Linked DNA regions of Homo sapiens: region 1 is linked to region 2. The links come from fine-mapping of genetic effects on gene expression. A gene starts in region 2. The other region holds a variant in brackets. All regions are shown on one strand. Distances are between the middles of the regions.

What was found. PIP is the estimated chance that this variant, and not a neighbour inherited with it, causes the effect.
Region 1: its variant is fine-mapped to the expression of ZBTB20-AS1 in whole blood (TOPMed, PIP above 0.99).

The regions. Positions count from the first base shown.
Region 1 is chr3:114,386,210-114,390,606 of GRCh38, forward strand. ZBTB20 (zinc finger and BTB domain containing 20) reads right to left here. Exons shown (of 12, transcript NM_001348800.3): 8 at 2,796-2,896. ZBTB20-AS1 (ZBTB20 antisense RNA 1) reads left to right here. Exons shown (of 9, transcript NR_038993.1): 8 at 1,214-1,370; 9 at 2,187-2,769. Among named protein-coding and RNA genes, the nearest start is that of ZBTB20-AS1, 37 kb to the left of the region's middle. The variant G/T (reference allele first, on the strand shown) is at 2,743.
Region 2 is chr3:114,349,270-114,353,666 of GRCh38, forward strand. ZBTB20-AS1 (ZBTB20 antisense RNA 1) reads left to right here and starts at 2,542. Exons shown (of 9, transcript NR_038993.1): 1 at 2,542-2,687. ZBTB20 (zinc finger and BTB domain containing 20) reads right to left here. Exons shown (of 12, transcript NM_001348800.3): 11 at 1,005-2,609.

The sequences.
Region 1 (4,397 bases), 37 kb after region 2:
GTCTGATGTCCTCACATCAATTTAAGATATTTTAGTGATTAAACACATTTTATTTTCTCAATCTTATTTTTTTTAACCTTGGCAGGGCTGATTTATAATTTTTTTTTCAGTATAATTTCCTCTTAACTGTATCAGTCAGGATCCTGGCAAAAATAGATGGCACATGCAAAGTTTTTAGCTAAAGAGGATTTAATGAAAAAACTGTATTTGGAGCTGCAGATGAGGTTAAGGGACCTCAAGAGAGATAGCACCAGGTACTAGCAATAGTAGAGACTGCCAGGTACTAGCAGTAGTGGAAAGCTTTAAACCATTTAAACTGAAGGGGCAAGTAAAATGGTGATGAATTCTGAGTCCAGTCAGAATTGGAGTTGGGAAGGAGGGCTGAACTAACACATTTCCTGACCTCTCTCTTCCCCCACTTTCACATCTCCTGCTGATGTCTCCTTTTGGCCAAATTCAAAGGGAAGCCCAAGGACAAGAGAGCCTGGGTAATGTAGTCCAGAAGGCCAGTCTTCTGGGTCACACATCAGGGCAAAAGAATGGTTCTGGGGTTTTTTTGGGGGTAGAATGGGGTGGCAAGACTAATCAACATATGTGTTCTTCTCTCTTATACTTTCAATTATACTTTCTGGAAGGAAAGACAGAACAAAATAAAATAGGTTCTGTCTTAGCTTCCATGTACCTATTATGTCGAATTGCCATTCACAGAGCAAGAAAAGAGAATGCTGCTCAGCCGAGCAGGGATTTTTGTTTGTTTTGCTTGCTGCCATATTCCTAGTTCCTAGAACAGTGTCTGGCACATAGTAAATGGTCAGCAAATTTTAAATGACTGAGTAAATATACTCACCTCTGCCGTGACAGACTTTATATATATATCATCTCATTGACTTATCACAATAATCTGGTTAAGTAGGCAGGGCCACTGAGCATTATTGTGCAGGTGGTATGGGGGGGGTGGGTAGGTATTAAAATTTAATATGTGCCTCCCCAACCCACTTCCAAGCCTTGTGACTAGGCCCGAAGCATTGTCAACCCACCAGAAGAGATATACTTCTGTAAATGATTCACATTTTAATTTTTTATCCTCTTTATTGATTTTTGCACCTAGCAAGTTTCTGTTTTATTATTATTATTTCTCTTTTATGCATTGGAAAGCCAAGTTTCTGAATAGCAAAGACTGCAAAGATTATAACCCAGTCTGTCCATTCTCTAGGGCCCATGAGAAGTAAAAGCAGGCACTGGCATTCTGCACAGATGAAATACTTCCTACGACAGGAATACATGCTCACTTGTGGACTTCTCTGTAATCTGTAGGCAACATCAGCTCCTGATTTCTAGGTCTGGATCTGGGTTCTCTGTAGCACAGGAAGGTAAGAGTGATAAGAACTCTTTTCCCTCTTAAAGGATATAGAAACTTTTAAACCCATCTGCATCATAGTAAGGCTGTGTTATCTGTATCAGCATAGTTACTCTGTGATGAAGAAAAACTCAGAAAACTATCCAGATGTGGGAATTTCTCGGGTATTCCTTGCACTTGAACTTAAGGATGAATGAAGGTATATACAAGTAAGTTCCTTGTGTGGGTGTGGACTGAAGAAACTATGTTTGATCTTCTGTCATGTCTTTAGTCCCCAGTAACTCAGTCCTATTAGTACTATAGAACACATTCCCCTCCGGGAAAGGCAGGCCTGTCTATCACCTACACAGCAGCCCCCATCAACTATGATTCAGTTGACTGGAAGCATTAAAGGTAAAAAAGCAACACAAAATAAAGCAAAACTCTGGCTTCATCCCTTTAGGTTTGATTTATACCAGAATAGCTAAAGACATAGAAATATGAATGTAAATATCCTACCTGAAGCCTAAGAGGGATGTTAGTCTCCCAGGTTTAGCGTTTTCCAGTAACATAGAAGTCTGTAAAACACCATCCCATTACCTGCCTCATAACATATAGGAAAACTTGTGAATATAACAACTAGTTATTGTTTTAAAATGTGTAATTAAGTTACTTTGCATGCAGAACTTCTAAATAATTCAAATGACTGGCTTTTCTATTGGAAAATAGCATATATTCATCTGTTATTTCAGCAATGATTAATGAATACTTGATATCAAACTTTCATCAGTATTTTCCCATAGGTATCATATCCCCTACCCCAAATTATTTCTGTACTTTTCCTTGCAAGGTCTCTACTTCTCCTACATAAATGCCTTGCATGGCGGGAACTAAATCAACTACACAGACCCATACATCCAGAGAGCAGAGGTGAGCTGGATACAAGTGGCTTAGAGATGTGGTGGAAGGAGGCCAGAGCTCCAAGGGAAGGGCAGCAAGGAGACAACAGCATGGGTTGCAGCTCAGACAACAGGTAAATAAAACCAAGCAAAGCTGCTGGTCACAGATTTGACCAGGGTGGCAAGAAATGACAAGCTACCATGAGATTCAACAGTGGCACGGAAGGATGATGAGAAGCAAACAGATTAGGAGAAGCTGCCACCACCGTACATAGAGGCACAGATGACCAAGCAGAACAGCACCAGTCCCTGCAAGGTGTGCTCAGATACAGCTCAGCACAGCCATCTGGCCAGGAGGGAATGATAATGCACATGGTGTGCACTGCAGCCGGGAAGTTGAGAACCGCTGTGGGCACCTCAGGACTGAGTCTGGTTACCCTGCTGATCCAAGAAATGAAGCCATCTAAAATTTTGCCTGCTTTCACAATTTTCTGTGTGTGTGTGTGT[G/T]TATTAAACAAAGTGAACTAAGAAGCCTTTTATTGGAGACATAATGTACTCACAGTAGTTTCAAAATCAATGGTGTCACTCTTCAGGTAAATTACTCCAAGGCTTGGGCCTAGTGCAGATGTTCATTGGGGCAGGGAGCAGAGAGCGGCTGCATCTAGATCAGACAAAAAACAAAAATAAGGTTGTTAAATGAACAGGTGATGGTGATGGCAATTATTTATTTTGATAGGAAAGAACTTTGGGACTTGAGTGAGAGGTTGGTTGTTTGGTTCTACATCTTTGCACCAGAGAATGGCGAGGTACGGAAGGGAGAATGGAGAGGATGTTGTCCAGGCTCCATTTTCAGTGCTTTCACCTAACTGCCTGTGCAGCCTGGGACATCAACAGTACCCTGTCAGTGCGGGCGGAGCTGATTTTGTGGTTCTGACTTAGAAGCTGAGTTGTGGGTGACAGTGGGGGAAGGAAGTAGAAACAGTGTCCTTCAACCTTCCCACAGTTGATTCTTCTAGTATCCTTTTCTTTTTTTTTTCATTTATTATATTTATTTATTTTTTATTCACACATAAAAATTGTATATATTTATGGTATAAAACATGTTTTGATACATGTATACATTGTGGAATGGCTAAATCAAACTAATTAAAATATGCATTACCGGCTGGGTGTGCTGGCTCACACCTGTAATCCCAGCACTTTGGGAGGCCGAGGTGTGAGGATCACGAGGTCAGGAGATCGAGACCATCCCAGCCAACACAGTGAAACCCCGTCTCTACTAAAATGCAAAAAAATTAGCCAGGCGTGATGGCGCACGCCTGTAGTCCCAGCTACTCAGGAGGCTGAGGCAGGGGAATCGCTTGAACCCGGGAGGCGGAGGTTGCAGTGAGCCGAGATTGCACCACTGCACTCCAGCCTGGCAACAGAGCAAGAGTCCATCTCAAAAAAAAAAAAAAAAAAAAAAGAATTACCTCATGTATTTATCACTTTTTCATGGTGAGAACACGTAAAACCTACTCTCAGTAATTTTCAATATATACTACATTCTTATTAACGATAGTCATGAGGATGTACAGTACATCTCTGGAGTTATTCCTCCTGTCTAACCGAAATTTTGTGTCCTTTGACTGATGTCTCCTCAGCGTCTGGCAGCCACCATTCTAATTTTTGCTTCTATAAATTAAGCTTTTATAGATTCCCCATATAAGTGAGGTCACGTGGTATTTGTTTTTCTGTGCCTGGCTTTTCTAGTACAAAAAAAAGCCTATTTTTTCCCCATATATCATGGATGACCTCTAGATTCATCCATGTTCTTGCAAATGACAAGATTTCCTTCTTTTTGAAGGCTGAATAGTGTTCCATTGTGTACTTTTACCACATTTCTGATATTCTTGATTTCATTTCAGTCTCTCTCTTTATTGCTTAGTTCTTAATGTATTCTAGTGACACCCATTGATCTGGGCATGTTCTGAGCATTCCCTCTGTCCTTCACTGCAAAGGCTCCATTTTCTTCCATAGGCTCTAACCCTGAGGACACCGAATTACCCTATTTTTTCCCCTATACCTCAGTCTGCTATTCTGCCTTCTTCACTGGCTTATTTTCTTTCTTCTGTTCTCTAAATGTAGACATTCCTCTAGATCCTCTCCTCAGGCTTTGTCTA
Region 2 (4,397 bases):
AGAATCTAGGTGACATCACAATCGCTTATGTGCTCACTTATATGGAGGCACATCCATGGAATGCCCAATTCTATGGGAATTCCATATCTCTGTACCACTATGGAGCTATGAAAAAGGATTGGCTGAGAGATCAGAAGATCTTAGCTCTGGAATCATAGAATCCAGGGATGAAACATGATCTTGCCCATCTTGATGACTGAATCCTGTGTACAAAATCCCTAAAAATGTTCATCCATTCTCTCCTTGAATGCGTCTAATTACAGAAACTCACTCCATTTAAAGGCAGTCTATCTGATATTAGAGCAGATCTGATTGTTAACAAAATTTTTCTTTTATTTTGTGGAAAGGATCTCCTGATAGCATCCAATCATTGGTCTAGTTCCACCTTTTGGAGCCAAACTATACAAACTGAATGTCTCCTCCTCTTAACCATCTTAATAATAGCTACCACTTATAGAGCACTTATTATATGCTTGGAAGTACTCTAAAGACTTCACATGTATTAATTTATTCTCAAAACAGCACTATAAGGAAGGCGTATCACGATTATTCTCATTTTATACACAAGGAAACTGAAGTATAGACAAGTTAAGTAATTTTTCCAAGGCGACAAGGTTTAGTAGTAGCTAAGCCTGAATTTACACCCAGGCCATCTGGCTGGGTGTAAGAGCTCAAGCTCTTCCTGACTACAGTATGCTGCCTCTGAAACACAAATACTTGAATATGGCTTATATAATGACCTGAGTCTTCTCTTCTGCAGTCTGGACATCCCTAGGACATCCCTTCTCCATAAAGGGTTCCTGTGACGGTGTCTCTTGGTGGCAGGGTGCTTTGTTCTTATGATGGGAGGAACACAGTTGGGGTTTCTAGAAGAGGCTTGTGGTGGGGTCTGTTTAAAATCTGAAAGATGATCCCAAACCTTCCCTTCTACCTGCTCTCTTACCTTGCCTTCCCACAGCCCCCTCAGCCCCTGCTGCCAGGCCTCCAGGTGGGGTGACACTCACCTGTGTGTACGAACATGTGCTTGACGTAGTTCTGTTTGGCGGTGAAAGTCTTGTTGCAGAGAGTGCACTCATAAGGCTTTTTTTCGCCTTGCCCACTGGCTGTGCTGTGGCCTGCGGATGAGGCCAGGGGCTGTGGCGCTGGCAGCTGTGCAGTAAAGGTCGACAGACCGGGCTGGGACACTGTCACAAACTGGGTCTGCTGGCCTGCCAGGGGCTGTGGCAGGCTGAAGAGGAAAGGCTTGGGGCCACTGCCCGCGGGCTGGGTAGTGAAGAGGGCTGGCAGGTAGGTGTTGCCAGCTGTGCCAATGACCTGCGTGTTGCTGGTCAAGGTCAGAGGCATCCTCAGGTTGCTGGTGAGGGTTTCTGTCTGGCGTAAGTAGAGCTGGGTACTTGGCAATGGCTGCCCGATGGACGTGTTGACCGAAGGCTGTTGTAGGACGCTCTTGTCGGAGCTGTTGCTGACAGTGATAACAGTGCTGTCCATCTCCACTTCATTGCTTCTCTCCGGAGAGGAAGCACCTGTTTCTAGCTGGTTTGTCTGCGGACCACCCTCAGCGGGGGCTTCTGCAGCCTGCTCGGGTTGGGTGGGTTCAGCCTGGCTGTCCCGCGCCGCCCCAGGCCCAAACTGCTGCTCCACCGAGTCAGGCTCGGTGCCTATGGAGGAGCTGACGCCCGAGTCGAAGCTTTCACCTTTGGGCTCACTCTCGGTGCCCTCGGCCTGGTCTGTGTCTTCCGTGCACTCCTCGGATTCGTTGCGTTCCAGGATCTGCACCCTTTGCTGCCCGTAGTAGTCGTAATCGTCCTCCATCTCCTGCTTGATGTGGATGTTGCCCACTAGGGTCTGGATGCGCACAGGCCGGGGCTGCTTGCGGCAGTGCGTGGTCTCGGGGGTGGTGGACAGGTAGCGCTCCATCTGCTGCGAGCGCTCATGGATGCGTGTGATCCAGCTGGGGTCTTCCATGTGGTGGTCGCGGGGCAGGCCGAGCGCAGTCTCGTGGTGGCTGACCACTGCGCCGCTGTAAAAAGAGCGCTCGCCGCTGCCATTCTGCATGGAGCACGCGTAGAGTGCCGAGTAGATCCTGTCCACGCTGTGCTGTGGGTGGCTCTGCAGGTAGCCCGACTCCGTGTCGCTGCTCTGGCCTGACGTGCCTGACTCGGGAGTGCCCCGCGGCGTGTCCTGGCCCGAGTCCTGGATCCCCGGGAACACATCGCCCACGTTCTGTGACACGATGCGCGTGCACTCGTCGATGACTGTTTTGATCTGCAGGATGCTGGCGGCCGTGAGGATCTGCAGAGCTTCCGACTGCGAGACCCGTAGCACGCCGCTGTACATGAAGTCAATGAGCTTTTGCACTGACTGCACTGACACCACCGACGGGATCTCGATGTCGCTGTAGCCAAGCAGCAGTTTGTCCTGGAAGAAGGGGCTGCCGGCTGCCAGCACGCAGCGGTGTGCGCGCAGCATGCTCCCGTGGATGCGCACCGTTACGTCACAGAAGTGGCCACGGTTGCGCTGCTCGTTGAGGGTCTCGAGCACGGAATTGCTGAAGTTGTGAAGGTTGATGCTGTGAATGCGCTCGGTCATCCCCTTGCAACTGATGTCACCTGCAGCATGTCAACGCAGACACAAAACAGGGCATGGGTCAGATCTAGCTGGTTGCATTCCTAACACCTAGGTTTCAGGTGAGTAATGCTCATGGCTCCTAGAAGCACTGCCCTTACATACGCAAGTGGGGAGATGGACAGGCTGCGGCATACAAGCTGTAGGTACGATGACCTGAGGGAAAAGGACCTTGAATTTTGCTCCAATTCCGGCCTTTAGTGCCGCAGCCATTTTGGGTATCCATATTAACTCCCCAGAGCTTCGGCTGAGGTAGAGTGGCCTAATAACCAGATGATTTGTTTGCCTGCTATTCCTACAGCTTCAGCAAAGAACTGAAAGGCAAATGGAAGACTTGTTCTTATGGAACACTAAACCTCCACTTTATTTTTATTTATGTATTTATTTACTTTGCCTTCACTTTAGACAGGCCTAAGCCCAGATTCTTTGGGAAAGTTTACATTTCCCCCAACTTATCAAAGTCCCTTATTTTATTCATACACAGTGACCATATTCATAGTTAACAAATAAACCCCCTTCCTATTAAGTCATATGGCATATTATCAAAACCCACACCATGTATGCAAAAATTATTGGAAAATTCAACCCAGACTAAGATATCTACCAAACAGTCATGATCATGCTTTCCGGATGATGGATGGGCTACAGAAAGCAATCTGCTAGCTAAAGGGGCACTCCATGGCTGCTTTCTGTATCTACTCATTCTTCTTGTCATCTCTGACAACCTGTTTGAGCACTTTCTAGGGTGGTTGCATGTGATATGGAAGGTTTTCTGAATTTTCTGAGGCTTAATGAAGGAGGAATGTTAAAAAGGTCAGAGATGGCAGTTCTGACCCAGGAGACTACAGTACATTGGTGATCATATTTATTATGCAAACAGGGCACTTTCAAGAGTGAAAGAGAGCATTGTTAATAATTAGGCCAGGATAGCAGGAGTAAGCCAGAAGTGGGATATATGATCTCCTTGGGTAATAGGGTGCTTTATGTACTTGCCACAGGGAAGTATTAAACAGCTCCCAGGAGGAAGGCAACAGCTATGTGGAGGCTGCGGATAGCCTGACCCAGCGCCACCCTATAACGTAGGCTGTTATGGCAAGGGATACTATTGATAAGATTTGGATTCAGAATGAGAAAGAAAACAGGTGGCTACAGCAGTAGATCTTAGGGCTTTTCTATTTTTCTAGCTCATCTCTCAGATGGCTCTAGAGAATCCCCCTCCAAATAATTCTTCAATCAGATTCCCCATTCTTGCCTTTACAACTGAACAATCAGCTTGGGAAAGTGAAATAAGTGGGCTTTCAAAACCAAATGGCCCAAGCACTGATTGTTGGCCTGGACCCAAATCTCTCTGTCTTGTGAGAAGCCACCTGAGAGGTAACAGCCTGCAGATAGGAAGAAGGCCTACCTCCTCAAACTCTTTCCGCTCTACCTTGCGATAGAAGACTTGTTCAGGAAACTCTGAGTTCAATGAGCGTTTCTACCTTGCTTCACTCAATCACCCTCACATGGTATGAGCTTAACTTAATAAATGTTCAATAATACAATTTGCACTAATTTGTATAAGAGCATTCTTTCTCGTTCTGACTCTATCAGGTCTGTTATGTGCCTAAAATATTGTATTAGGCTACAGATTCCATCGTTTTTACTTATATAAGACAAGTTCTCTTTGCCAGATTAAAGAATTAAGGTAAATCCCCTGTAACCATGTGAACACAAAATATGGCCCCAAAAGAAGGCACAAATAACCCAGGAAGGGCTGTTCAGGAGCTCAA